Linked DNA regions of Homo sapiens: regions 2 and 3 are each linked to region 1. A link means that fine-mapping ties the variant in region 1 to the plasma level of a protein whose gene starts in the linked region. Region 1 holds a variant in brackets. A gene starts in each other region. All regions are shown on their reverse strands.

What was found. PIP is the chance, under the fine-mapping model, that this variant and not a neighbour inherited with it causes the effect. Protein levels are from antibody-based Olink assays in UK Biobank. Linkage for the fine-mapping came from a reference panel and not from the study's own genotypes, which makes the PIPs less certain.
Region 2: VMO1 starts here. The variant in region 1 is fine-mapped to the plasma level of the VMO1 protein (UK Biobank, PIP above 0.99).
Region 3: PCARE starts here. The variant in region 1 is fine-mapped to the plasma level of the PCARE protein (UK Biobank, PIP above 0.99).

The regions. Positions count from the first base shown.
Region 1 is chr14:106,037,447-106,047,765 of GRCh38, reverse strand. It overlaps IGH, IGHV2-5, the pseudogene IGHVIII-5-1 and the pseudogene IGHVIII-5-2. Among named protein-coding and RNA genes, the nearest start is that of FAM30A, 120 kb to the right of the region's middle. The variant G/A (reference allele first, on the strand shown) is at 4,883.
Region 2 is chr17:4,778,586-4,788,499 of GRCh38, reverse strand. VMO1 (vitelline membrane outer layer 1 homolog) reads left to right here and starts at 2,136. Exons shown (of 3, transcript NM_182566.3): 1 at 2,136-2,342; 2 at 2,448-2,563; 3 at 2,841-3,215. The coding sequence starts at 2,148. The coding sequence ends at 3,138. TM4SF5 (transmembrane 4 L six family member 5) reads right to left here. Exons shown (of 5, transcript NM_003963.3): 2 at 7,631-7,711; 3 at 5,861-5,997; 4 at 5,463-5,646; 5 at 5,289-5,386. The coding sequence ends at 5,372.
Region 3 is chr2:29,073,192-29,083,207 of GRCh38, reverse strand. It overlaps PCARE (photoreceptor cilium actin regulator), which reads left to right and starts at 8,685. Exons shown (of 2, transcript NM_001029883.3): 1 at 8,685-10,016. The coding sequence starts at 8,947. RefSeq lists enhancers at 1-223, 1,994-2,494.

The sequences.
Region 1 (10,319 bases):
GACACAAAACAGTGACAGCATGCCAGCAATGAGTACAGAATAACATCCAGTTGTTATGTTAAGAGATACAGACTCCGAAAAAGAGACATCAGGTAGAGGCTGTCAAAGGCCTCACTGCCTAATGACTGCTTTTCCATTGATACTGTGTGTATATCCCGGAATGCACCTGTGAATGAGGACATCATGTCTTTCATAGTGTGAGAGAAAGAGACATTACTACCCATCTGACAAAGGATTGATCAGAATATACCAGGATCTCAGACAACTCTATAGGAAAAATATCTAGTAATCCGAATAAAAAGCAGGCGATATTTATTTCTTAAAATAAGACTTTCAAATTGCAAACAGGCATATAAAATGTGCTGTGTAACACTGATCATCAGAACAATGCAAAACAAAACTACAGTGAAATATCATCTCATCTGATTTTAAAATGATTTCATCCAAAAGCCAGACAGAAACAAATGCTGGGAAGGATATGGAGAAATGAGAACACTCATAACCTGTTGGTGGGCACTTAAGTTAATAAAACCACTATGGAGAACAGTTTAGAGTTTCCTCAAAACCTAATAGTAGTGTTGTCATATAATCCAGCAATCCTGCTGCTGGCATGTACTCCCTCCCACAAAAAAAAAATGTTGTTTGCACTACCATGTTTGTTATAGCACTGTTCGTAATAGCCAAAATTTGAAAGCATCCTAACTGCCCATTAACAGATGATGGATAAATAAAATGTGGTACATATAGCATATGGATTAATATTATGCCATAAAGAGAATGAGATTTTTTCATTTGCAACAACGTGGATGAAACTGGAGTTCATTATATTAATTGAAATAATCCCAGAACCGAAAGACAAACTTCACATATTCTCATATATTTGTGGAAGTTAAAAATTAAGACAACTGAACTCGTGGAGATAGAGAGTGAAAGGATGGTCACCAGAGGCTGGGAAGGTCTATGGTAGATGGGGATTATTGGGGATGCTCAATGGATGAAAAAAGTGGTTAGAAATAACAAATAATACATAGTATTTGATAACACAACAGACTAAGTATAATCCTTAATAACATAATTATAGATTGTAAAATAACTAAAAGTGTATAAATGGAATGTTGGTAACTCAAAGAATTAATACTTGAAAGGATGTAGGAACCATTCATCATAATGTGAGTATTATGCAGTTCATGCTATATCAAAGTCAGGTACCCCATAAATATACACATATACCATTTACCCACAAAAATTCAAAATTAAAGTATTTATGTATCTCATCTTCTGTATCTATATTACATTAAACCTAAGAAGATACTGGTTTCTTCACACTACCAAGATCCACATAGACATCCGTAGCCTTCTTTCTTTGCCTGTCCATAATCTGACATTGAAAAATGAGGAAACCTTTCCTATCATATGACATTAATTTACTTAGTGCACAATTTCAAAATACACAAATTGTGTTAGAATTATTAAACTGACCCTTGTTGAAAATATGTTTATCGACTAGAATACCGTGCTTATATGCAGCTTATTTATATTTTACAATCACAACATCAAATTATTTCCAAAGATACTTGTTTCTGATATTCATGCCCCCCTTTCTGCAGTGAAATTAGTACAAACCTGTTTATCATTGTTAGATATTTTTATACAGCTTTCATTTTATTCTGTGTTTCATGACCAGCTAAATACTTTTGAAGTTGTATGCATTTAGGTTAACACTTTGTCTCAAAAAATTATGAGTTTTCACAAATTATTTATGCCATGTGTTTATCATTGAACACCATGAAAATAGTTTCATTGTGATTAAAAAGTGTGTGTTTCACCTAATCCACACACCTTTTCCCCAGATTCCTGGAAAACCACAAAGGTTTACTGGATCTATATTTTTGTCTTTGGCAAAATAGCCTGGCTATTCTCTTAGCTTCTTCTGCAAAGCATCAAGATTCACCTTCACTGACTGCAGCATTTATTGGGCCCTGATGGCTGGAGGAGAGGGGCTGGAGTGGGTGGTAGCCATGAGTGACCCAAGTGGAAGTTCTCAGTGGTGCTCTGCTCCAGCACAAAGAAGATTCACAGTTCCTGGGGACAACACTTAACATCACAATCTCCCTTAAAATTATCTACTGGAAAGCTGAGGAGTAGGCAGTGTATTACTGTGAGAGACACAGTGAGGGACATATGGGTGAGTCTAGACGCAAACTTCCCTGCAGGAAGACAAGAGGGGACTTTGTGGTAAATGGTGCTCAGAACCACTAGGGGACACTCAGAACCACTAGGAGACACTCAGGATAGCAGAAGGTGCTCAGGATGCCGCAGGGTGCTCAAAACACTAGGGGTGCTCAAGACCAGCAGGGGGCACTCAGGACACCAGGAGACACTTAGGACATCAGGGGGCGCTCAGGACACCAGGGGGCGCTCAGCACAAGCAGGGGCCACAGAATGACAAGGGTGCATTCCAGACCACCAGGAAACACTCAGGACCAACAAGAGATTCTCAGAAACCACCAGGTGTAACAGGACCACCTAAAGGCCCACAAGACAACCAGGAGACACTCATGGCCACTGAAGAACATTGAGGACACCAGGGGTTCAGGGCCAACAGGGAGTGCTCGGGGCCACCATGGGGCTTTCAGTAACCACGAGGGAATCAATCACTCAGGACACCACGGTTTTCTTAGGAGGCAGCTCCACATCAGGTGCCTGGGGAAGGTGACGTTTGCTTTTAGACCTAGCTGATTCCTGAGCTGGTCAAGCAAAAGTCTTCCCACGATCTCTCACTATTTCTTCCTTGTAACCCATGGTTTCTTTCACATACAAATCATTAACTTAGGATAGGAATTCAATTCAACTTTTAACCTTGCATATTTTTAGAATAATAATAGCAATAGTAATTCAATGTGTTTTGATAATAAGAAATTGTGTATGCCTAATTCAAACTCTGGTTCCACGCATGGGTTTTTGTTTCTTGTGCTGTGCCAGTCACACTACAGTCAATGCTTTTCTAATAATAACTCAACAATGTCACGGTGTTAAGTTTCCTTTCATTTTGTCTGCCATTTGTGGAGATGAAACACCACTTTCACGGGTCAGTTCCTCCACTTTGGTTGGGTTCTGGTCTTCTGCTCTTCACACTGTTTCTCCACCTTCCCTTCTGTCAAATCCTTTTGTCTTCCTCAGTCTCCTGGCAAAGAAGCAACAAATCTATTTATTTTGTCTCCTCCACGTCTGGTGAATCTGTTCACTTCTCTTCATGATCATTGAACCCAACCATGTTTAGAAGGATAACAGTTCACCTTACAATATGCTCATGTAGGTCAGGTGCAGTGGCTCACTCCTGTAATCCCAGCACTTTGGGAGGCCAAGACGGGTGGATCATCTGAGGTCGAGTTTGAGATCAGCGTGGCCAACATGGCAAAACCCTGTCTCTACTAAAAATAGAAAAATTAGCCAGGCATGGTGTCGGGCACCTGTAATCCCAGCTACTCGGGAGGCTGAGGCAGGAGAATCACTTGAACCCAGGGTGAGAGGCTGCAGTGAGCTGAGATAATGCCACTTAACTCCAGCCTGGGCGACAGAGAGAAACTCCATCTCAAAAAAAAAAGCATATGTTCATCTATCCGCAGACTCTCTGACATCGTCACCCTTTTCTAGGGTCCTGCAGACATCACCCCACAACATCCAGTCCTTTTCCTAAGTACCACAGAGTGGGCTCTGCAGCTCCTGCTGCTCTCTGTGTGCTCAGCGCTGAGGCTCACCAGTGCTTTGATGATGAAGTTCAAATCCCTAATGTGTTTGCAATTCTCAGACAACCCTCTAGCAAGCTGCCATTGTGAGTGCATTCTGGGGATCCTGGGCTGATTTCAGGTCCATATTGCTGGATGTTCTCTAGCATCCAGGCGTGTTGGCAAATAAACATCTAGAATTTGTATTGAAAATTTGTGGAAAATCAATGGTAGAAAACAATCCTAATTTCTAAATAAGAACATTTTATCCTGACTTTATAAAAACACAATGTTAATTTAACCAATAATGTAATAAAATGTGTTTAAAGTGATGTTTATCTTGTTATTAGATGTATTAATAATTGGTATTTTAAAGTATACTAACAGCATAAATGACAAACAAACCAACACAGCGATTATACATAAATACCATTGTACATTAATTAATTTGGCAAGAATGGCATTTATTTTCATTTCTACCAAACCTTGCCTTTAAATATGTTTGTTAATTGGCATTAGGATAGTGAAACAATCACACAGAGCAACAACATTTTGGAATATTACATTATACTATAAAATAGTACATTCGATTCAATTATATAATTAAAATAACATTAAATAAATTCATGTTTTGGTTTGATATTTGGATATGTGTTCATTTTTGTATTTTCTTTTTTTGTATCTTTTGTAGAGATGGGGTTTCACCATGTTGGACAGGCTGGTCTCGACTTCCTGACCTCAGGTGATTTATCGGGGGAACCCACCCCCAATATTTCAATGTAGGGTCTTTCTATTTTCTGTAAGTGTCGGCTGGTCTGAGAAATAAAGAGAAAGAGTACAAAGAAAGGAATGTTACAGCTGGGCCACCGGGGGTGACATCACATATTGATAGGTCCGTGATGCCCCCTGAGCCGCAACACCAGCAAGTTTTTATTAGGGATTTTAAAAGGAGAGGGGGTGTACGAACAGGGAGTAGGTCACAAAGATCACATGCTTTAAGGGGCAAAAAGCAGGGCAAAGATCACATATTCCTTCCCCAGGGTATTAATTACTAATATTCCTTGCTGGGAAAGAATTTAGTGATATCTTCCCTACTTGCACATCAGTTTATAAGCTCTCTGCAAGAAGAAAAATATGGCTCTATTCTGCCCGACCCC[G/A]CAGGCAGTCAGACCTTATGGTTATCTTCCCTTGTTTCCTAAAATCGCTGTTGTTCTGTTCTTTTTCAAGGTGCACTGATTTCATATTGTTCAAACACACATGTTTTACAATCAGATTTCATATTGTTCAAACACACATGTTTTACAATCAATTTGTACAGTTAATGCAATCATCACAGGGTCCTGAGGTGACTTACATCCTCAGCTTACAAAGATAACAGGATTATGAGATTAAAGAAATTATGAAAGTATTGATTTTGGGAACTGATAAATGTCCATATTAAAATGAAATCTTCACAATTTATGTTTAGAGATTCCAGTAAAGACAGGTGTAAGAAATTATAAAAGTATTAATTTTGGGAACTGATAAATGTCCATATTAAAATGCAATGCCTAGGGCCAACAAAGGAGTCATATTAATATGAAAAATAATAGCTGAATATTTTGGAAATGACACATGCAGTAACAAATGTCTATATGAAATTAAGAAGATATTGACACAAAATTGAGAAAAAATTAACATAATTATGCTCACTACTGGTTTATAAAATGCCTATAATAACACTTTTTAAATCATATTATAGAAAATAAAATAACTATATAAATAGCACTCTCTTTGCTTGATTTTAGTATTTGGTGCTTCAAATGTTTTTTATACAAATAAACATTGGTCATTTTTTGATGGTAATTTCAATATTTTCTTCCAGAATACATGTTCATAAATGTAATTGAAATTGTATAATTTTCAGAAACTTATTTTATCAGTTGTGACTTGTATTTTTATGATAGTCTTTTTACATTTATATACTTTTGATTCAGAATAATTATAGATAAAAAAATTATAAAGTTAATACAGTGTGTTCCCATCTCCAAGTATCTCCTAAGATGAATATCCTCTATCATCATAAGACATGGTGTTAACACATTTACATTGATAAGTGTAAATATATTCAATACCAGACCTTATTTTATTTATCATTTTTCCAATAATTTCTATTGTAAATGAAAAATAAAATTCTAAGCTTCCTCAAGCAACTAAATGAACTCAACCCTCAGCCAAGGGAATTTCAAAGTAAATTCTAAAACTTGTTCCAGCAATGATGGGAAAGTGAGAGGTCAGACATGCCTCATTACATGCTCCTCTCTTTGGAATTAAGGCACCAGTGGCCAGCATTAGTACTACAACAAAGATCTTAAGACGGGCAAAACTATATTTTTGCTGTAAACACTTTCTATAGCAAAAAGACATCAAATTACAACTTGATTCTAGTATAGCATCACATGACAAATAGCAAAACCTAATGATTTATTCTGTATGAAATCTGCTACCTGGAGGCTTCATCTACATAATAAGAACTATGATCTCCAGGACCCCTTATCTTAATCCAGACACTCAGTTGTAATGATTGTATTACCTTACATTTCAACCAATTGCCAATCAGAAAATCTTTGAATTCTCCTATGTCCTGGAACCCTGTGCATAAACTTTCCTGCCTTTCTAGACTGCATAAATGGTATAGCTCACATGTGTTGATTAATATCTGCCTGTAACTTCTGACCCACTAAAGTATATAAAATCAAGCTGTAATCAAGCCATTTTGGACATGTGTTCTCAGGAATTCCTGGGGTCGTGTCATGGGCCTTGGTAACTCATATATATCTCAGAATGAGCCATTTTAAATATTTCATAGTTTGTCCCTTTTAGTGGATATCTTCTTTTCTTTTTTTTGGGACAGAATCTCTCTTTGCTGTTGCTTTCGTATATTTGTTTGTTTCCAGATTCCATCAAGGCCATCAGTTTGAATTCAGTTGTCTTGTTCCTTTATTCTCTTCTGGTAAATGACAGTTTGTATTTCTGAAGTTTTCTAGTTGAATATTTTATAGATAAAAATTTATCAAGTAGGTTGATAGTGCCATTTGGGACTCTTATATCTTTACCTATTTAATCATTGCTTGTTTTCTCAATCACAATGAGTGTTGATTTCTCCATGTTCTATACATGTTAGTCTATTTTCTGTTCCAAATCCATTTATTAGGTCTTTTAAAATGGATTTTGGAAAAGTTGATCCTATTATTTTATGCAATATTTCACTTGAGTTGCAAAGGTATTCTTTTTATGATTATTTTGTCTGAAATTAACATAGCTATTCAAGTTTTCTTTGGTTTATATTTTCATGGTCTATATTTTTCCATCTTATTTCTTCTCTTTGTGAATATGTTAAGAAGTTTTCTTGGAGAAAGATAATTGCTGGGTCTTTTTTTTTTTTAGTCAACTATGAGGAATTATTTTTTAATGATATTACCCTTTTGTCCAATAATGGTTGTTTTGTCTTTTTACAATAATATGTATTGTTTCTATTAATTTATTATTTAATTATTATTGATGAATATCTTATTGGTTACCATAAGGATAACAATAAGACATTTCTATAATTGAATTCTAATTCAAAAATGTAGTACTTCTTTTTCTTTTTTATTTTTTTGAGACGGAGTCTCACTCTGTCGCCCAGGCTGGAGTGCAGTGGCACAATCTCAGATCACTGTAAGCTCTGCCTCCTGGGTTCTCGCCATTCTCCTGCCTCAGCCTCCCAAGTAGCTGGGACTACAGGCACCTGCCACCATGCCCGGATAATTTTTTGTATCTTTAGTAGAGACAGGCTTTCACCGTGTTAGCCAGGATGGTCTCTATCTTCTGACCTTGTGATCTGCCTGACCTGGCCTCCCAAAGTACTGGGATTACAGGCATGAGCCACCGTGCCCAGCCTACCCCTTTATATATAGAACAGAGATATTATAACTATATATGTCTAATTCCTCTTTTCTATCCCTTTTTTATTTTATCAGTTTGTAATTACATAAGCTATAAAAATGTAATATTGACATTTTTATAATTGCTTTACACATTTATGTAATAAAGAAAACACAAATGCAAAAACTAAATTTAAACCTCATTTTTTTCATTGTTGACAATCTTTATCTTTTGGATACATTCAGGTATTGGATGTATATCATATGGCTGCTCATCTAGAAACTCTGCTAAAACGTCTATGGCAAGATTAATATGCTGGGAATAGATTTTCTCAGGATTTGTTTGTCCGACAGAGTATTTATTTGTCTTTGATTTATCATCTCAAGAGACAATGTCAAGAAGATGCTGTTTCTGCAAATGGGCAATCTGCAAACCAAGGACACGTCACTACATTACTGTGCAAGAGAAGCACATGAGGAAAGGCCGGTGTGAGACACAAACCTCCAGGAACACCTGGGCTAATGAGCTGCAGGGGGTGCTCAGGACCCACTGATCAGTCAACCACAGAGGGGAGTGCAAAGGTTAGGACTGCTTTCCTGCAAGCATTGAAAAAAGAAGAAAAAAACTCCGTCTGACAGTTTCTCCAAGGAACTTCTGTAATTTTAGAATTCTGTGCCTACCAATGACATCTCCAAATATTTTTTTAAAATATTGTGTTTTGAGGACATACTCTCACATGGACAAAACACAAATTGACACAGAGATGAAAAGCCCTCAACCATAGTCACCAAAATTGGAGACATGTAGAAGCTCACTGGGACCTGTTGAGTCTTCTCCAATCACACTCAGAACAGAGACCTTAGTGGGTCTCCCTTAGAGTAGTCATTAAGGATGGTGATAACAGCCTAAAGATGGTAGACCATGGTCAGTGTCATATAGAATATGGGGACCCTCACAAGTTTTTTGTCTGACCCTTCTCCTGACACTAAATTATGCAAATTAATAACACTGATCTGGTGCTTCTTTTGATTCTAATTTATTTTATTTTTAGTTGTCGTTCTCACTTTTCCTTTGGATTTTCCTGCTCCCTGGAAAAGGTAAATGTGGTCTCCGTGACCTCAATTCAAGGGCTGAAGCCCTTTCCCTGTAGCTCAGCTGGGGCTCAGGCTGTGGCTACTGCAGCCATGTGGAAGAGGCTGAAGGGACTTTCTTCACTCTCCTTGCTCAGGACCATCCACTGTATTGTGTATAGGCTTCTCTGGAAATGCAAGTGGCCATTTGTAGTGAAAGAAATATGTTTGTCTGGTTAAAATGGGAGGTGGATGTAGAGTTAATTGGCTGCTACATAAACTGTCCTTCTCCACCAGTGCTTTTAGGATGAGATTGTGAAATTTGTAAGAATCAAAATGGAGTCACATATGTTAAAACCCTGACAAATGGATTCAGGAAGTGTAGGGAGAATTCTTACACACATATCCCTGACAACAAGAACTATCATAAAATAGTTCTTGCAAAAAGACCAACATGACCTCATAATCATGACTTCTGCAAAGACTTCTACTCAGAATCTACTTGCCCAGCCTTAGATTAATGCCATCTGAATTACACTGATCATGTTACTATCACTGCTCCTCACCACAGATGCAACACCCTCCTGAGTCCTGAAACCTGACTCCATCCCATAGAGTAGGGCACAGATGAGGGGAATGCAAATCTCCACCAGCTCCACCCTCCTCTGGGTTGAAAAAGCCGAGCACAGGTCCCAGCTCAGTGACTCCTGTGCCCCACCATGGACACACTTTGCTCCACGCTCCTGCTGCTGACCATCCCTTCATGTGAGTGCTGTGGTCAGGGACTCCTTCACGGGTGAAACATCAGTTTTCTTGTTTGTGGGCTTCATCTTCTTATGCTTTCTCCACAGGGGTCTTGTCCCAGATCACCTTGAAGGAGTCTGGTCCTACGCTGGTGAAACCCACACAGACCCTCACGCTGACCTGCACCTTCTCTGGGTTCTCACTCAGCACTAGTGGAGTGGGTGTGGGCTGGATCCGTCAGCCCCCAGGAAAGGCCCTGGAGTGGCTTGCACTCATTTATTGGGATGATGATAAGCGCTACAGCCCATCTCTGAAGAGCAGGCTCACCATCACCAAGGACACCTCCAAAAACCAGGTGGTCCTTACAATGACCAACATGGACCCTGTGGACACAGCCACATATTACTGTGCACACAGACCACAAAGACACAGCCCAGGGCACCTCCTGTACAAAAACCCAGGCTGCTTCTCATTGGTGCTCCCTCCCCACCTCTGCAGAACAGGAAAGTGCAGCTGAGATACGTTTTCCTGCCAGGGCCTGCATTTCCCATCCCCATTAGACTCAGAGCCCTGTCTTCCTCCTTCTTCTTTAATAATAAATGGCATGACTCCTGTTAATAGTTCATAGAAGCAGAAGCTGAGTCCTGTTTGTCAAACATTCAGCATGAAATGTTCATGTTACCTGGGCCAGATGCATCACTGGTATGTGGCCGCCAGTTTAATGGGCTCATACTACTCCAAGCGGCCGAATACAAAACAGCAGAACATATGCCTTTATTAAACTGCAGGAAATGACACTGGAGAAAAATGTGGGGATAAGGGAGCAGGAGGAATTGTGAAAATTCAGATAATAGCTTTTCTCGTAGAGAGAAAG
Region 2 (9,914 bases), not on the chromosome of region 1:
CCACTTCTCTCTCGCTCTCTTTTTTTTTTTGTTTGTTTTTTGTTTTTTTGTTTTTTGAGACAAAGTCTCGCTCTGTCGCCCAGGCTGGAAAGTGCCGGCTAATTTTTACATTTTTAGTAGAGACAGGGTTTCACCATACTGGACAGGCTGGTCTCGAACTCCTGACCTTGTGATCCGCCCAACTTGGCCTCCCAAAGTGCTGGGATTACAGGCGTAAACCACCGCGCCCAGCCGGGAACACCCACTTCTAAATTCTCTATCTTATTCCCAGGGGACTTTGTCTTGACCTGGATACATGACCTCTTGCAATCATATACGTACGTCAGGCTTTATCCTTTTGCATTTTTGTGGTTTAATTTTCAAAACTCCAGATTGGCTCTTCAATCATTCATTGCACCAACTTTTATTAAGTACTTCCGCACGTACTAGGCTTCAAGAATACAAAAGTGCCTTCACAGAGCTCAAGGTCCACTGGGGGAGAATTTATCCTCTGTCTCCCCCACTGGAATGTGACCTCTGATGACAGGGGCCTTGTTATTCTTGCTTACAGCAAGTGGAATATTGCTTAAGCCAAAACATATTATTGCTAAATAGGTATTGAATAAACAAAGGAGTGTGTATGAGGGGCAGGTAAATCTGGGGTTGTGGCCCCTAACAAATTTAGCCAGGCATTTTTAGGCCAGGCACGGTGGCTCACGCCTGTAATCCCAGCACTTTGGGAGGCCGAGGTGGGCGGATCACCTGAGGTCAGCCTGGCTAACATGGCAACACCCCGTCTCTACTAAAAATATACAAATTAGCCGGGCGTGGTGGCGAACGCCTATAATCCCAGCTACTCGGGAGGTTAAGGGAAGAGAATCGCTTGAACCCGGGAGGCAGAGGTTGCAGTGAGCCGAGATGGCGTCACTGCACTCCAACCTGGGCAACAGAGTGAGACTTCGTCTCAAAACAAACAAACAAACAAACAAACAAAAAACATACTTAGCCAGATTTTCTCGCTTTTTGTTTTGCAAATTAGGAGTCCATCTGGTGGTCACAGGGGGAAAGGCATTCCAGGAAAGGATATAAGGATACAGAAAGCAATGGAAGAAACAGCATGATCTTTTCTTAGGGGTTCTTAGTCTCCTGTCCCCAAACTTCTTAGAGTTATTCCTGTTGGACCGGGCGCGGTGGCTCATGCCTGTAATCCCAGCACTTTGGGAGGCCGAGGCAGGCGGATCACAAGGTCAAGAGATAGAGACCATCCTGGCCAACACGGTGAAACCCGGTCTCTACTAAAAATACAAAAATTAGCGGGGCGGCGTCTTGGCGCGCGCCTGTAGTCCCAGCTACTCGGGAGGCTGAGGCAGGAGAATCGCTTGAACCCAGGAGGTGGAGGTAGCAGTGAGCCGAGATCGCGCCACTGCGATGCCGCCACTGGGCGACAGAGTGAGACTTCGACTCAAAAAATAAAAATAAAAAAGAATTATTTCTGTTTGTATATGTCTTCTTCTAAGGTAGGGAGGAGTGTCCCGGATTCTCAAGGTGTTAGGGCCCTGAGCTCTCAGAAGACCTCTCAGAGGAGGAAGAGACTTCTGAGCTGACAGGAGTTTTCTCAGCTTCTCCAGTTCGAGGATTCTTGTCCTATCCTCACTCTGATGTCCCCTCACATCCTGGAGGTCTCTGGGTTGCTCTTGCCCCATCCCGTCACTGGTGGGACTCCCGGGAGGTCACTTCCATCCCTAGCCCTGGTCTCTGCTCTGTCTCCACTCTCACTGCTGGAATGTTTCCCAGCTTGCTTGGCTGTAAACCTAAGGCAAGTTGCTTGCCATTTTTGAGCCAGTTCCCTCATCTACAAAATAGGAAGGATAATTCTCACCCCCCAAAAATTGTTGTGAGGGTTAAACAAAATACTGCAAAGCGCTAACCATAATTCGTAGCCTATAGTAAATATTCAGTAGGTGATGGTTATTTTAATTCGCCCTCTCTCACTGCCCCTCCTACCCTAGCTCTGGGAGCCTCTGCCTCCGGGAGCAGGAAATAGGGTTCCGGGAGTGGATTAGTTTTGGGTTTCACTTAATCTGGGAGGCCCTTCCGCAATCGGAGCCCTCACAGAGGCCAAACTGATATAAATCTGCTTAGGAGGCCTGATTCACAGACGCTACAGGATGGAGCGGGGCGCAGGAGCCAAGCTGCTGCCGCTGCTGCTGCTTCTGCGGGCGACTGGTTTCACATGTGCACAGACAGATGGCCGGAACGGCTACACGGCGGTCATCGAAGTGACCAGCGGGGGTCCCTGGGGCGACTGGGCCTGGCCTGAGATGTGTCCCGATGGATTCTTCGCCAGCGGGTTCTCGCTCAAGGTTGGGGCTCAGGCGTAGGTCCTGGAGAGGGCGGAGATGCGTGGGACCATAGAGCCAAGGATGATAATTCCGTGACTCGCCCTTGCCCCTCTCCTCGATACCCAGGTGGAGCCTCCCCAAGGCATTCCTGGCGACGACACTGCACTGAATGGGATCAGGCTGCACTGCGCGCGCGGGAACGTCCTAGGCAATACGCACGTGGTAGAGTCCCAGTCTGGAAGGTGGGGCGCAGGGGTCGAGGATCCCTTGGGGTGATGGTATGTCCCTTACCCTCTATTACATACTCCGTCGCAACAGGCAGGCTGGCTCCGCCAGAGCTACGGGGCAGTATAGACCGGGGAGGCGAAGGGTGGATGGAAGACCCCTCCTCCGCTCCTCGGCGGAGGTCGGGGAGCACCCAGCCCACCAGGTCATATACACAGCACTTGGCTTGGAAAGTCTCAAGGGCTTGGTGAATGGGGGGCCCGCAGAGGCAACGCATCTCCCTTTGCCTTGCAGCTGGGGCGAATGGAGTGAGCCGCTGTGGTGTCGCGGCGGCGCCTACCTAGTGGCTTTCTCGCTTCGCGTGGAGGCACCCACGACCCTCGGTGACAACACAGCAGCGAACAACGTGCGCTTCCGCTGTTCAGACGGCGAGGAACTGCAGGGGCCTGGGCTGAGCTGGGGAGACTTTGGAGACTGGAGTGACCATTGCCCCAAGGGCGCGTGCGGCCTGCAGACCAAGATCCAGGGACCTAGAGGCCTCGGCGATGACACTGCGCTGAACGACGCGCGCTTATTCTGCTGCCGCAGTTGAACGGCGCCGCCGCCGCCGCTCTCTCCCGGGCCAGGAGGCTAGTCCCACCTCTTGCTATTAAAGCTTCTCTGAGTTGACTTTGGTCTCGCCTGTTTATTTCATTTATTTATTTATTAATTTATTTATTTGAGACGGAGTATCGCTCTGTCCCCCAGGCTGGAGTGCAGTGGCTCACTCGGCTCACTGCAAGCTCTGCCTCCCGGGTTCACGCCGTTCTCCTGCCTCAGCCTCCCGAGTAGCTGGGACTACAGGCGCCCGCCACTACGCCCGGCTAATTTTTTTTTTTTTTTTTTGTATTTTTAGTAGAGACGGGGTTTCACCGTGTTAGCCAGGATGGTCTCGATCTCCTGACCTCATGATCCGCCCACCTTGGCCTCCCAAAGTGCTGGGATTACAGGCGTGAGACACCATGCCCGGCTGGTCTCGCCTGTTTAAGGGATGGGGAACTGAGTCTCCTTTTCCCCTCCTAACTTAGCATTAGGTGAGGCATACATTTGGATTTGGTCTCAGGGGTCTATGGTAGATTGCTGAAAAGTTATGGACTCGAGAAAAACGCACTTAAACAGATAATTTTCAGACAAGTGATGGAAGTCTGGCTTTTTTTTTTTTTTTTTTTTTTGGAGTCTCACTCTGTCACTCAGGCTGGAGTGCAGTGGTATGATCTTGGCTCACTGCAACTTCCACCTCCTGGGTTCAAACGATTCTTCTGCCTCAGCCTCCTGAGTAGTTGGGACTACTGGTACCCACCACCATGCCCAGCTAATTTTTGTATTTTTAGTAGAGATGGAGTTTCCCCATGTTGGCCAAGCTGGTCTCAAACTCCTGACCTCAAGTGATCCACTGGCTTCAGCCTTCCAAAGTTTTGGGATTACCGGCTTGCACCATCGTGCGGGCCCAGGAAGTCTGGCTTTCTGAGAGAGTCTGCAGACACCCTGCCCCCATTAGGTGCCTAGGTTGTCTCCTTTCTGAACCAGTGACCTAAGATTAAGAAAATTCTACCAAATTATGGCCAGATGTGGTGGCTCACAGCTGTAATCTCAGCACTCTGGGAGGCTGAGGTGGGTGGATTGTTTAAGCTCAGCAGTTGGAGACCAGCCTGGGCAACATGGTGAAATCCCCTCTCTACAAAAAGTACAAAAATTAGCAGGGGTATGGTGGTGTGCGCCTGTAGTCCCAGCTACTCAGGAGGCAGAGGCAGGAGGATTGCTTTAGCCCAGGAGGTGGAGGCTGCAATGAGCCGAGATCGTGCCACTGCACTCCAGCCTGAGTGACAAAGTGAGACCCTGTCAAAAAAAGCAAAAAAAAAAAATTCTATCAAATTAGGAGGTGACAAGGCCACAATGGCTTTACAGTTCCATTTTCTAGAGCTTAAGAGGTTACAGTGTCTTTTCCATAGTTTTCATTATTTTCTCCTACAGAACTGATCCCTGTTTAGGATCTTTGTCCTTGCTGTTCTCTCTGCCTATAATCCCCCAAATATCCAGATGGTTAGCAAGCCTTCCTGATCTTAGCTCAAATTTCATTTTCTCAAATTTTCCCTGTCATAAAAGAGAGTCTCTCCATAAGTCAATATCAATCCCATTACCAACATGCTTTTAAAAAGTGCTTATCGGCCACGCACGGTGGCTCAAGCCTGTAATCCCAATACTTTGGGAGCCTGAAGTGGGAGGATTACTTTTGCTCAGGAGTTCGAGACCAGCCTGGGCAACCTCGTCTCTACAAAAAATACAAAAAAGTTAGCAAGGCATGGTGGCATATGCCTATGGTCCCAGCTACTTGGGAGGCTGAGACGGGAGGATTGCTTGAGCCCAGGAGGTGGAGGATGCAGTGAACCGAGATCGTACCACGGCCTTCCAGCCTGAGTGACAGCGAGACCCTGTCAAAAAAAAAAAAAAAAAGTGCTTATTACCTATTGAAATAATTTTTTGCTTCTTTTAAAAATTGCCTATCTTCCACTCTTGGAATGCCAAGTTCTTTGAGAGAATAAAACTTGTCTGTCTTGTTTACCGTCCTTATTTCCAGCGCAACCAAATAGCTCAGTATCTATTCGTTAAGAAAGTACAAGTGGGGTGCAGGGGCCCCAAAGGCCAGGTGTATCCGTAGCCTCTCGCACACTCCTCCTTACAGAAGGCACAATCTCAGACAGAGAAGAGAGCGCAAAGCAGTTTATTCTAGCGAGCAAGGGAGTGAGCGTCCAGGAAGGAGCAGGTGTAACCCGGCGGTCAGTGGAGCCTCAGTGAGGTGTGTCCTGCGGAAAAGAGAAGGTGAGAACGCAGCCAGGACCAGGCAGGTTCCCTCTACAACTCCACCGCAAGAAATTTCACCTGTTTTTTCCTGCAATCGCCGCAGAAGACACCAATGGTCGCGTTCACCAGCTGGATCCCACACAGTACTATCTCCAGGCAGGAGGCGGCCACCAGCAGCGAGAAGAGCGTCACATTCCAGGGGACCACGCGAGGGGGCGCCTCGCACCGATCCCATAGAGTGCGGTTGAGCAAGTAAGCTCCCCTGTGGGAGGGGTGAGGCCACGTGGGAGAAGGCAGCGTGCGCGTGCGCCACCCCGCCCCCAAGAATACGTCCCAGGGGATTTGCTAAGGCCCAGGTAGCCCACGTGGAGCGAGTGCCCTCGAAGTCGAGTCCCGCCCAGGTGTCCCAGTCCACGGGGGAAGGGCGGGAGGGAAGAGGCAGAGAATGGAGGACACGAATACAGGCTAAACCTTACGCGGTGTCTTCGAAGTGGTAGCCCCACTCGCCGTTCATTAAGCATCTGGGTCCATTTCGGAGCCCAGCTCCAGACACCGAGAGGCAGTAGATGGCACCAAGCACCCCGAACGCCGAGGAGAAGACCGAGCGCAGCATCTGGATGTGGTGTGGAAGGGGAGGTAAGGCCCAATCTCCCCACCTGTGGGTGACGACGCTCAGCGCCAGCCCCCACGCATTATCGAAATCTGCTCCAGTCGGGTTGTTAAAATGTATTTTTTAATGCCGGGCGCGGTGGCTCACCCCTGTAATCTCAGCACTTTGGGAGGCTGAGGCGGGTGGATCTCCTGAGGTCGAGAGTTCAAGACCAGCCTGGCCAACATGGAGAAACCTTGTCTTTACTGAAAATACAAAAATTAGCCGGGTGTGGTGGCACATGCCCGAGGCTGAGGCAGGAGAATAGCTTGAACATGGGAGGCGGAGGTTGCAATGAGCCGAGATCGCACCACTGCACTCCAGCCTGGGCGACAGAGCCAGACCCCGTCTCAAAAAGAAAAAAAAAAAAAAAAATTAGAAATTCGGACTCTGTTTCTGCACCTGTCCTTGCAGAACCACAGCACTCTCTATGGAATTCCTAGCTACACAAGCTCCTCTGCGGACTCCCAGGCCCCACCCCACCCTTCCCTGGCACCCACAAATCTCAGATCTCAATGATCCTGAGGGGTAGGCGGGTGAAGGGGAGAGGGGGGAACTACAACCCCAGTGAATCTCGGCGGCCGCTGGCTTTCAGGTTAGCCTAACTGCAAGCCCGGGGTTTGAAGGGAAATTTATTTTAAACCTGACTCGAGGCTGGGCACGATATCTCACACCTGTAATCCCAGCACTTTGGGAGGCCAAGGGGGGCAGATCGCCTGAGGCCAGGAGTTTCAGACCACTCTGGCCAACAGTGAAACCCCGTCTCTACTAAAAATATAAAAATTAGCTGGGTGTGGTGGCAGGCGCCTGTAATCCCAGCTACTTGGGAGGCTGGAAGAACAAGAATGGCTTGAACTAGGGAGGCGGAAGCTGCAGTGAGCCAAGATCGTGCCACTGTACTCCAGCCTGGGTGACAGACCAAGACTATGTCTAAAATAAATAAGATAAATAAATGTAAAATAAAATAAAAATACATTTTTTTTGAGGCGGAGTTTTGCTCTTGTTGCCCAGGCTGGAATGCAATGGCACAATCTTGGCTCACCGTAATCTCCTGCCTCAGCCTCCTGAGTAGCTGGGATTACAGGCGCCCACCACCACACCAGGCTAATTTCTGTATCTTTTCTTTTCTTTTTTTTGAGACAGAGTTTCACTCTTGTTGCCCAGGCTGGAGTGCAATGGTGTGATCTCGGCCCATTGCAACCTCTGCCTCCAGGGTTCAAGTGATTTTCCTGCCTCAGCCTCCTGAGTAGCTGGGATTACAGGTGCCCGCCACCACGCCTGGCTAATTTCTGTATCTTTTCTCTTCTTTTTTTTTTTTTTTTTTTTTTTTTAAATCACTGCTTACTGCAGCCTGGACCTCCTGGGCTCAAGCGGCCCTCCCACCTCAGCCTCCCAAGTAGCCGAGATTGCAGGTGCTTGCCACCACGCCCGGCTAATTTTTGTATTGTTAGTAGAGATAGGGATCTTGCCATGTTTCCTGGGCTGGTCTAGAACTCCTGGCTCAAGCCGTACTCCCACCTCAGCCTGCTAAAGTGTTGGGATTACAGGCATGAGACACCACCCCCAGCCCTGAATTCCTTCTTAATCTGGATCTTACCCTGCAGCGGTTTCCACAGCACCCAGCACCACAGCAGCCCTTGCCCCCTGCCCGAACGGCTGCAATCCCCGGACACAGTACCTGTGGGACAAGAGTCATTGTTATAGCACGTCCCCCCAGATCCTCCAGGCCTGACTTGCATCAGTGCCTACCTCCTTCAGGAAGCTGCCTGTGATGCCTTCAGCCCTTTGGACTGTAGAAGACCTTATCTCTACGTCTCCTGGAGCTGCTGGGCTTCACCTTACTTTATCCTTATTTACGTGCCTACCTTATCTCTGTCCAGATTGTGGCCTCTAGAGGGTAGGGCCCAATATCATTATTTTCCCCAATCTTGGCACATAGTAGGTGCCCTACTGAATGGAAATCAGGGAAACTACTTCACATGCTATGAATTGATTCATCTCTCAGGGTCTCAGTTTTGCCTGTATAAAATGGGTCTGGAAGATCTACCTCACAGGTCTGTTCTCAGGATTTAATGGGAGAACAAGCTGACTAGGTGTTAAGACTGGCTCAGAGGCCGGGCGCGGTGGTTCACGCCTGAAATCCCAGCATGTTGAGAGGCTGAGGCTGGTGGATCACCTGAGGTCGGAAGTTCAAGACCAGCCTGACCAACATGGAGAAACCCCAACTCTGCTAAAAATACAAAATTAGCCGGGCGTGGTGGCGCATGCCTATAATCTCAGCTACTCGGGGGGCTGAGGCAGGAGAATTACTTGAACCTGGGAGGTGGAGGTTGTGGTGAGCTGAGATCGTGCCACTGTACTCCAACCCGGGCAATAAGAGCGAAACTCCATCTCAAAAAAAAAAAAAAAAAAAGACCAGCTCAGAGTAACTCAATATTTATAAGTTCCCTCAGCAGCAGGAAGGGATAGAGGTGTTGGAGTGTCTGGTGAATTGGGATTACAGTAGAGTGTGGAAGAGTGCTAGTGGATGGTCTGATATGGAGTGTAGCATTTTCCAAGATTCAAGCCTTGGTCTTTTTTTCTCCCTGTGGCTTTCCTAACAATGCCCATCCCCTTTCAGGGAATCAGCTCTTCACTCTGCCAGAAGTTGCCTCCAAAACTGATGCCTCCAGATCCTATGTTCACTTGAATATCTTGGTTTTAGCTCAAATTCAACCAGCCTCACGCTCATCTCACAATATTCCTCAAATTCATCTCCCTTTGACTTTCTTGTCTCCATCAGTGGAAAAAATAACATCTACTAGGTCAGCCAGGCTGGAAAGCTTTAATCTTGCACCCAGAAAGACATCAAATTTTCTCAACTTTTACTTAAGTGGCTCCTGAATCTGTGAGTTCCTCCCCACATTGAATCCCTCATCACCTCCCATGAGGGTGTTCTCAGCCTCCCTATTACACTCTCATAGCTCTTGCCCCATGCCACCCTACACTCTATCCTCTATCAGGTTAAACATAGCTTTTTTTTTTCTTTCTTTCTTTTTGAAACAGGGTCTCACTCTGCCACCCAGGCTGGAATGCAGTGGCTTGATCGTGGCTGACTTTAGCCTTGACCTCCTGGGCTCAAGTGATCCTCCTGCCTCAGCCTCCTGAGTAGCTGGTATCGCAGGCATGCGTCATCATTCCCAGCTAATTAAAAAAAATTTTGTAGACATGGGGTCTTGCTATTTGCTCAGGCTGGTCTTGAACTCCTGGGCTCCTCCTGCCCTGGCCTACCAAATTGCTGGGATTACAGGTGTAAGTCACTGCATCTGGCCTAAACATAGCTTTCAACTGGTCTTTTCTCTGCTCAAATCCTTTAGGGTCTCTTCACAGAGAAGCCCATCAAGACTGAACTCTTTTTTTTTTTTTTTTTTTGAGACGGAGTCTCACTCTGTCACCAGGTTGGAGTACAGTGGTGTGATCTTGGCTCACTGCAACCTCCACCTCCCAGGTTCAAGTGATTCTCCTGCCTCAGCCTCCTGAGTAGCTGGGACTACATGCACATGCCACCACGCCGGGCTAATTTTTTGTATTTTTAGTAGAGACGGGGTTTCATCATGTTGGCCAGAATGGTCTTGATCTCCTGACCTCGTGATCCGCCTGCCTCAGCCTCCCAAAGTGCTGGGATTACAAGCGTGAGCCACCGCGCCTGGCCAAGACTTGTAACTTGAACGCCTAACTCTTGTAAGGCATTTAAGCCTCCTCATCTGGCTCCGTTACCTTTATCTTCGTTGCACCAGGTCAGGTTCTTTGCCTGTCTCCTATCTCTGGAATTCCACAGCTGTCTTGCTTCTTGCTTTCGTGTGTGTGTGTGTTTGCTTTTTGAGACAGGATCTCACTCTGTC
Region 3 (10,016 bases), not on the chromosome of region 1:
AAAAAATAAATCTGTATGAAATTCAAGGATGGGCACAGTGGCTCATGCCTATATTCCCAACACTTTGGGAGGCCAAGATGGGAGGATCACTAGAGGCCAGGAGTTTGAGACTAGCCTCAACAACATAGCGAGACCCTGTCTCTTTAAAAATTAGCCAGGCATGATGGTGCATGCCTGTGGTCCCAGCTACTCAAGAAGCTGAGGTGAGAGGGTCACTTGAGCCCAGGAAGTCAACACTGCAGTGAGTTGTGATGGCACCACTGCACTCCAGCTTGGATGACAAAGTAAAACCCTTTCTCTACAAAAATAAATTTTTAAATCCCAAACAATGCCAGCTAGTCCATAGTGACAGAAAGATGATCAACAATTGCCTAGGTGGATGAGAAGGGGTATATAGGGAGGGATTACAAAGGGCCATGAGGAAACTTTTGGGACTGTTGGATATGTTTATTATCTTGACTGTGGTGATGGTTTTGAGACAGCCAGGTGGGTGGGGGTCCCTGGAGAAACTCCAACCAGCCTACCCACTGAGGTGGAGCCTCGGGAAGTTCATGCCCTTTGCAGCGGGGAGGAGCCCTGTCCCTCCTCTTCCTGTATGGAACCTGGGATTCGAACGGTGGGTGGGAAGTGCTCTAGCAGGGACTCTGGTCTAGCGAGAGTCTGTTTCCCCCCTTTCTCTCTTTTTACCCAATAAAACCCCATCTTACTCAATGGTCTGCAAGCCTGAATTTTCAAGGCCATAGGACAAAGAACCCCGTCTTTAACTGAACTAAGGAAAAGTCCTGCAAAAGTTTCATGGATGCATGTGTGTGTGTAAACTCATCAAACTGTATATTTTAAATACATGTGTCAGTTATACCTCACTAACAGCACAAAGTAAAAAAAAAAGCTAATGATGTGAGCTGCTCATACAATTATTATTAAACATAGTTTAAATGTGTTCATAATATTGGTTCCCTTTTTCTATTTATTCGCATTTAATGTCAAAACACCAAAGAAGGGTTATTTGATGTACCTCAGGTTAGAGGCATGTTTGTTCTTGGTGTCTTTATTAGTAGTCTATTTTAAATGTTGACATTGTTGTAAATTAGAATCTACAGAGATCAACTCCCTGTTCTGCATAAATGCCAAAAGGATATTAATCTGGTCCAAAGATATGCTCCTTTCACAAGGCCGAAGTATTTTAATCATCACCTCCCTGGGTTATTCTTCAGAGTCAGTCTTGGGTAATTTATCTCCTTTAAATATTATTATGAATACTTATGGGTTTTTTTTAGGGGAGGGGGCCTATTTTTGTCATGGTAATTCTAAATGTATAAATAGAATTTTTTTTTAAGTCATGAGCAAGCAGGAATGAAATTTCCCAGCAATAACATTAAAAAGTTATAAGCAGGGTTATAAGCAGTGGTTGATGTCCCATTCCCCCGTTCAGCACAGACAAACCATCCTTATGGATAAATGTAAAGGGGAACTGAATCTGCTATCTGCTCTTCAGTCTAAGAGCAGACTTTAGACGAAGTTATAATACAATAAAAATTTAAATACTGTAACTTTTTCTGAGAAAAATGCACACAATATTTGAGTTGTCTACAATATTTCAAAGACTCTGAGCTAGTCTGACTCTTGTTGCATAACCCTGGGAAATTGTGAAACTCAGTTCTGACTTATGTCCCACTATGATGAATTCATATGACCCAATGTCTTTCCTCAAATTTGCCACACACACAAATGTCTACTCACAAATTCATAAGCAATAACTAGAGTGAAGAGTCTATTTTGAGAAGTTTGTACAAGTAGCAGCCACTATCTTTCCAAAGCCCAGGGTACTGATGGTGGCGGTGGCCTATTTGGAGCAGCTGCTGTGGGGATGCCAGCTGCAGTGGGGAAGGTGAAGCTGGGGCTATGCGTTCCACCGAGCCAGAGGAGGGCAGTAATAGGTGGGAGTCCCGCCCCCTACCGAGTTGGCTGGTCAAGAGCACCTCACTCCCCAGTGCAGCAGCAGCCACATCAACACAGCTCCAGACCCGGGCATCCCTGTACTCTCAGGGGCATGGCTAGCCCCAAGCTCCCACAGGCTTGGAAGTGCCTGCTCCTACTCCCTGGCCTCTCCCAACTCCTGGCACCCGCTCCAATTTCAGAGCCTGAGCCTGGGTGCTGTCATGGCCCGGCTAGGTGTGTACACGCTCAGGGCAGCACTGACATGCCAGACATCCTCCACTGCCTTGGCACCTTCTGAAACTTTGAGCACCAACGAGCTCAGGAAGGGAGGCCAGGAGGGCTGAGGGAGGCTTAACGCAAGCCTGCAGGTGCCCCTTGGTGTGAACAGCCTGGGTGCCATGGAGGTCATGTTGATGGTGGCAGGAGTCAGACAGGTTCCTAGGAGGGAAGGGGTGGGTCCCCAGTGAAGCCCCACTTTCAAACCAGGGACAGCCTGAAGCCTGGGGGCCAGGCTTTCAGTCCCAGGTGGTGTCCATGACCCAGAGCGAAACTTTATGGTGCTTTTTCCAGGCACACCCATGGCCACCCATGGACCAATCATCACACAGTTCCTCCCTTCTGAGCCCATAAAATCCCTGGATTCAGCCACACTTGCATACTGGTCAGGATGACCTGCCTGTGGAAAGGAGCTGCCCACTATGGGTCTCCTCTCCACTGAGACCTGGACACTCATCAGCATGGCCTGCCTGTGGAAACGAGCTACTCACTTCGGGTCTCCTCAGAGCTATTCTGTCATTCAATGAAGCTCCTTACTATCTTGCTCACTCTCCAGTTATCCACGTGCCTCATTCTTCCTGGACATGGGACAAGAACTCAGGACCAGCTGAATGGTGGGACTGAAAGAGCTGTAACACAAACAGGCCTGAAACATGCCCCCCACTCACCACATTGTGAGTGACGAGAAGGAGAGAAGAGCTGCAGCCCTTCTGGGAGCCCAGACCTCAGGGATCCCCAAGTCATGGCTATGACATGCTGTAACTCCCTCTTTGGGGCTTTGTGGTTCCTGGTATCTGACCTTTCTGGTGTTATTGCTTTCCCCTTGTCCACATGCTGGTGCCCACAGCAGAAGCTGCTTGCAGTACGTCTGGTCCAGCTGCAGCCTTGCACAGAGCCGGCACCTGTGCGGGCGCCTGGAGCTGCCTGCCCCACCACAGCCGGCACACCTGGCTGTGTGCAGTGGCTGGACCCTGCACTTGCTCACTCACACACCCTGGCAGGTATGGGATCTGGGCTGAAAGCAGGAGCCACGCGCAACCTGATGGGCCAAGTGAGCAGAAGGAGCCCAGCAGGCATGAGCAAAACTGAAACAGAGGCACTGCTAGCCACAGAGGTTTCCAGCTGGCAAAGCAACACCCTAAGGATCCCATGACAGTACATACATGTAAAAGTAAATACACAAATAAACAACCAGTCAAAAGTCAAGAAATTCGAGTCTGCTCTTATTTCCCTACAGGGAATTAGCAAACCATCCCACAGTTCATAAGGACATTGACACAGTTTTCCCGTAGGTTCTTCTGATAACATGGCTGAGCAGTGGTCTTACAGTTTGGGAAGAATTCTCAATTAATTCCTTCCCTGTGTGCTGTGTTCTGACTCAAAGCCTAGCATTTCTTTCCCCAAGCTATCTTGTCTTCACACCAGAGCTAAGTTCCAGAGGACAGGGACAATCCTCTGTTACAGGTGGAGAGACTCATACCTAGGGGACAAAGGCAAAGATCTGAGGATATTTCACAGGCTTGGGGAGTAGAAGAAAAGGTAGGAATGAAGAAAGGGCCTGTGGACTACATTTCCCAGCCCTTTTTGCATCTAAGTAGGGCCATGTGATAAGTCCTGCCCATCAGAATGTAAGCAGAAATGATGGGTGTCAACTCCATGCAAAGACAGTCAAGGATCTGACCTACCTTCCCCATACTCTCTTCCCTTTCCGCCCTGTAAGTCATGTATTGAAGATGTTCATGTTCCAAGATGGAAGGGCTTAAATCCCTGAGTCACCATGTGGAGTAGGGCTGTTTAAGAGAATGTCCCAACACCTACACTGGCATTGTATAAACAATAATAACTCTTACTGTGCCAAGTCACTGATATTTGGGGATTGTTAGTTACAAAAGTTAGCCTACCCTTTAAAAAAAAAACTCTAATTTATATGTAAGAATTGAATCTATTTCAATAAAACACTTTCTATCATACAAAAAAACTAGATAAATGTTTTTCAAGCTTGTGGTACATTTAGGATACTTTGATTCTAAACATACACTACCTTGTGTACATGAAATTTGCTTTGGAGGATACTTAGAGGCATCTTAAAGGTTTAAAGAGTCAACCTCCAGAGGTACAATGTACCTGTGTGATGACTGATCCAGACCATACGCCATGCACACTAAGATTCAAGAAAAACAGGCAGGTGTTTCTACTATCATCACCAAATCAAAAGCTACTTAGGGCAGACACCTGGATATCACATGTTGGTTTCTGATAGAATTGTGTATCCCACGAGCAACTCTGGATGGATTGCTCTAAGGTATATAACAGTAGCCAGAATGGTTCTTTTAATGATCCTCCAAAGCAAAGCAAGGAAGGCCAGCTTCTGAAAAGATAAATGTAAAGTGAGTGCCTAATGAAGTGCGTGGGACACAAACATGGCCTCCTTCCCCGCCAGCTCACCACAATAGATGCGTGCTTATCTCTCTGTTACCTGTTCATCTCACATCCAGACCAAGGAACTGTGTTGCAAAAAGCACTCCTTCAGATATGGAGGACCAGGTATGTCCTAGGTAGGCCTTGACTAGTGGGAAATTTTTCTTGGCTTTTAAGGTACAGGAGAGCCCCTTTGGTGAGGCTGATAGACTTTGAGGGGTAAAACATTTCTTAGATTGTTTAAATGACTTTCAGTCTTGGCTCAAAACTGATGTCACACTAGAACCATCTTTTGCTGATCAATTAGTTCAGGGCCACATCAAACAAAATGGCATGGAATTTATTTAACATGCTAAAGGGGAAAGACTAGTACCTTATAAACTAATGTTTAGTATAGTTACACTAGATGCATTGGTTTGAGCTATGATATGGCCTGATCTTTTTTTTTCAAGTGACCTTTTGAAGGTGGAGCCTAATTTTTCTCTCCTTGAATGTAGACTCTACACAGTGACCAGCTTCTACAGAATAGAATATGGAGGAAGTGAAGGTGACCTTTGGGATTAGAACTTGCTCTGGGGGAAGCCAGCTGTTCTGTTGTAAGAACACTCGAGCAGCCCTACAGAGGGGTCCATGTGACATGTAACTGAGGCCTCCTGCAAACAGCCAGCAAGGAATGGAGGCCTTCATGTGAGTGAGCTATCACAGCCATGTAGATGAGCTATCTTGAAGAGAATCATCCAACCCCAGTCAAGCCTTCAGATGACTGCAATCCCGGCTGACATCTTGACTGCAAACTCATGAGAGATCCTTTTGAGTTGCCCCCAAATTCCTGACCCACACAAACTGTGAGATGTTATCTCAAGCTCCTTATTTTTGGAGTAGTTATACAAAAACAGACAACTAATAGAGGGACCCTTTTCCAAGACCTAGAGCATTATAGCTAGGACCCTCTTAGGCGCCAAGCAAAGCATACAATACCGCATTTTAGTTAGATGTGTGTGTGTCTGTGTGTGTGTGTACACGCAAGTGCAACATAGAGTGTGCAACTTCATTGTACAACTCAAGGAATTTTTGCCTATATAGTATATACCCATATAACTACCACCTAGGTCAAGATGTGGAACATTTCCAATACCCTAAAAAAAATTCCTTCATGTCCACAACCAGTTGATAGCTCTTCCTAGAGATTCACCACTTTTCTAATTATTTAATATAACTATGGATTACTTGCCTGTTCCCGAACTCCATAAAAATGGAATGTTTCACCTTGCACTATTTAATGTCTAGCTTCTTTCACTCATCATAATGATTTTAAAATTTATGCTGTTGTTACGTTTCATTAGTTTGTTCCTTTCATTGCTAGGTAGTATTCCATTGTACAATTATATCAAATTTATCTATTTCCCTATTGATAAACATTTGGGTTGTTTCCAATTTGAGGCGATTATGAGTAGAACTATAAATTTTCTTATAGCAGTCTCTTTGCAGACCTTTATGTTCAATATTCTTGGGTAAATTCTTAGGAGTGGAATTGACGGGTCACAGGGTATATTTTTAAATAACAGTTTTCCAAAATAGTTGTACTTTTATATGCCCACTCAAAATAATTTTTTTCATTTGAAGCAAATCCAATTTAAAATAAAGAAAGACAAAAGTTGGTCTTAATGAAAAATGAACAGCAATGAATAAAGAGCTTCCTAAATTACTTGGAATAGTCAAGGAAACTCATGTGTAAGGTACAGAGCTATCTGACAGCAAATCCTCCAGGCAAACACTTTGATTTTGATCATTGGTTTGGAAATAATTTTAGTCACTTAGATAAAAGTTTTTCACAAAGATGAGTCAAGCAGGGGCCCAAATCCCAAGAGAAGAAGAATTTACATAAAGCATCCTCCAGATGAGTTTTTCACTCTGTTAAATGGATGACCCGAAGGGAAAAGAAAGCCTTCCCACGTGGCACCCTTGTTTACTGGGCCAGCTCAGCACTGTGACAAATGAAGCAACGTCTTGATGCCTAACGCAGCTCGCCTGCAGGCACTGATTCGGCTTTGTGTCTCGCCTGAGTTCTGCTTCAAATAAACAGATCGGGGAAGTTTATTAATGATGCACTCTGGGGCATCGGGCTGTGATAGGCAGCAGGCGCTGCACACAGCCCCAGTGGCCAGTCTCCAGCTAGTACAAGAGGCAGCTCTAAGTCCTGCCTGTTTTGGAGACATCCTGACACCCATGGTGTTGTTTTCGTTGGTTGTATGAAGTGGGAAAAAATGAAGACTGGAAAGCCAGAATAGCAACTCCAATCTCAGCAACTTCAGGGGGATGCTCAGAGATGCTCAATGCAATGTTTTTCTATTTGGAAAATTTCGAAATTGGCAACAACCTAGATGCCCAAAAATAGGAAATGGTTAAATAAAAGCCCCTCTCCCTCCTGCAGACAGTGGGAATCATTGTGTTTGAGAGCCGAGAAATTAAACAATGAGGCCTTAGAAAAATCCTGAGGCAGCAGTGGATTGAGCACAGGGTGGGGGTGGGGGGCAAAAAGAACACCAGATTCAGAGGGCTCTAAGTGCATCATAGGCAATTATTTCCAGACCATTCAGGAATAAACCAACGCAAACCAATGAAATTCTTATGACTTTCATTATTATAAGTGCCCTAGCTTCCAGGGGGAAAGGAGTAAGAAACTTTTTTTTTTTTTTTTTTTTTGAAGACAGGGTCTCACTTCCAAAGTCCAGGCCAGCTTGCAATAGCACTATTACAGCTCACTGCAGTCTCAACTTCCTAGGCTCAGGTGATTCTCCCACCTCAGCCTCCGGAGTAGCTGGGATTACAGGTGGGTGCCAACATCCCCAGCTAATTTTTTGTATTTTTAGTAGAGACAGCCTCACCATGTTGCTCAGGCTGGTCTCAAACTCCTGAGCTCAAATGATAAGCCTGCCTCAACCTTCCAAAGTGCCGAGATTTATAGGCGTTGAGTCACCACACCTGGCTGAAACTGCATGTTTTTGAGTACCTACCTTGGGTCAAGCACTTACCAAGTATTAATTGACAATCCTCACAATGGCTCTGTGAGGTAAGTACCGTGGTCCTCATTTCAAAGATGAGCTCTGCCTCAGGAAAGCTTAAAAACTATCAGAAGTTTCCTCAACTAACAGGAGAAAGACTCAGGATTCAAACTCCAGTCTTTCTAGGCCAAGCTGTTGTTCTAGATTTTACTGACAGCAAATAAAGTTTAAAAGGAGGTTTTAAATGGGCAGCTGCTACCCTTAGCCACAGGCAGGAGCCCCATGCTCAGTTTGAGCAGAAAAATGGGCTTCCCCTTGAGTTCTCCTCTTAATAATGAAATGGCTCTCCACTGCCCAGTTTTTAGCTTGTTTTCCTATGAAGAAGTTTGAATAAGAAGCCTCTTCCCATGAAAGCATTGCCTTCCTGAGCGTAGTGACCAGCCTTGAGCTTTACATGGCAGTGACTTTTCCTGCTGTCCCCATCCAAACTGGGGGGGATAGCTTTCCTGCTACCTAACTCAATTTTCTAATGCAAAGGAAAAGCAACCTGCCTTCTTCATTCACTATCTTATTTAGAGACATTCTCTATACTAGAGTCCCGGGGTTTTTATAAGCCACACAAACAATAATGCATTACTTCAATTATTATCTATTGTGTGTTTTGGGGGCTTCTTGATAACAGCAGATTGGAGCACACTTGGCTGGTTTGCCCTTATTAAACCGTGAAGGTCACTTCTCTTCCAGGGCCTGTAATCAACGAGCCCTCTCTTCTCTTCCACAAATGCATCTCTTCCAGAGCCTTTGCAATTATGGCTCATTTCTCTAGGTTTCATATGGCAGGCGTCTGAACAGAATTAAAAGCATGAGCACGTGCAAAAATAATCCGCTTCCCAAGATAGTAAATGCTGAGAAGTTCTATATTAGAACACACTGTGAGTGCTGACTGGCTAGGGCATGATTAACCTAATAGGCTTAAGCTGCACTTGCTATCCACATCTGTCAGGACGCGAGCAAAACACAGGCCCGTAATCCACCAGGCTGGGAGCCTTCAGAATTGTCCCGCTGCTCACTAACAGCAGAGGGTTCCAAACTTAGAACAACAACAGGACGACAGGTACCACTCCCTCTTCACATTTGGACCAAGAAAATAAAGAAAGCTGGTTCCAAGTTTAGGATATTGTACCATGGACTTCAAAGAATTCTGGCCTGAAAATTGCCTGGATGGACTAGTAAGATTGCCTTTTGTTCCTATTTCAAATATGATTCTTGGAAAATTGTGAAGGTGGGTGGAAGATGACTACAAGCTGAAATCATGGGGTGTACACCTTCACACAGTGACCTTGTAAACAGCGTTGCAAAGAGTGGCATTCAGTTCTTGAAAAAGCCCAAAGCAATTCGGCCAGGATGTCAGGGCGGAAGTGAAAGAGGTTCCATCCCTTTGCTGGTTAAAAACTCCACCTGCTATGACGCTGGGGAGGGCCTGGCAGAGGAGCAGCCAAGTCCCAGGAGGAACCAAACCACAGCTAAAGGTCTTTGTCAGCTCATGGGAGATCCTGCTTCAGGCAAAAGGAAAGATATGGAAGGACTGATCCCAGGAACCAAAACCTCTTCATCCCAGCTGAACAAATCACAAAGCCACATGGCTAAGGATATTCCGTTCAAGACACAGGGTTCCCATGGATCACAAGGGGCAGACTTTTCTGGAGATGAGAGTGAGGAAAGTAGTACCCAAGATACTTCCAAATGGAAAAGGACAGCAAAATGTCACACGTCAAGCACACAGAGCCACTGCTACCAAACCATCCACCCTGCTCATGAGCCTGAAGGCAAAGTGGACTTCCCGGAGCCTCTGGTAAAGGCCCACCAGCAGGCTTACACCTATCTACACTCCAGCCTCTCCAAATATGAAGCAATTCTGTGCATCATCCATCAGGCCACCCAGACCCGGGAGCTGCTGCAGCCCATGGTCAGCTTCTTGCTGCTGTGCTTTGAGGAGATCAGCCAGCTGTTGGGGGAGATCTCCAAGGATGGAGAAGTGCTCCTGCAGGAAGTCAGGGAGGATCTGGCTTGGCCTTTGAAGAAAAGAGAGCCCCAGGAGCAGCCAAATCTCCTGCAACAGCTGCTACAGTACACAGTCAGCAAGCTGCAGGTGCTCAATGGCACAGTGGCCTCGCTCACCGGCAGCTTCCTGGAGGGCTCCAGCAGCTACCTCCACTCCACTGCAACCCACTTGGAAAATAAGCTGAGCACAAAAAGGAATGTGGATGAACGCCTCCTGAGGGCTCTGAGGCAGCTAGAGAGCCTGGCGAGTGGCTGTGGCGACCCTGGGGTGCAGGGTCTCCCCTTATGCTCTGAGGACAGTGGCATTGGTGCTGACAATGA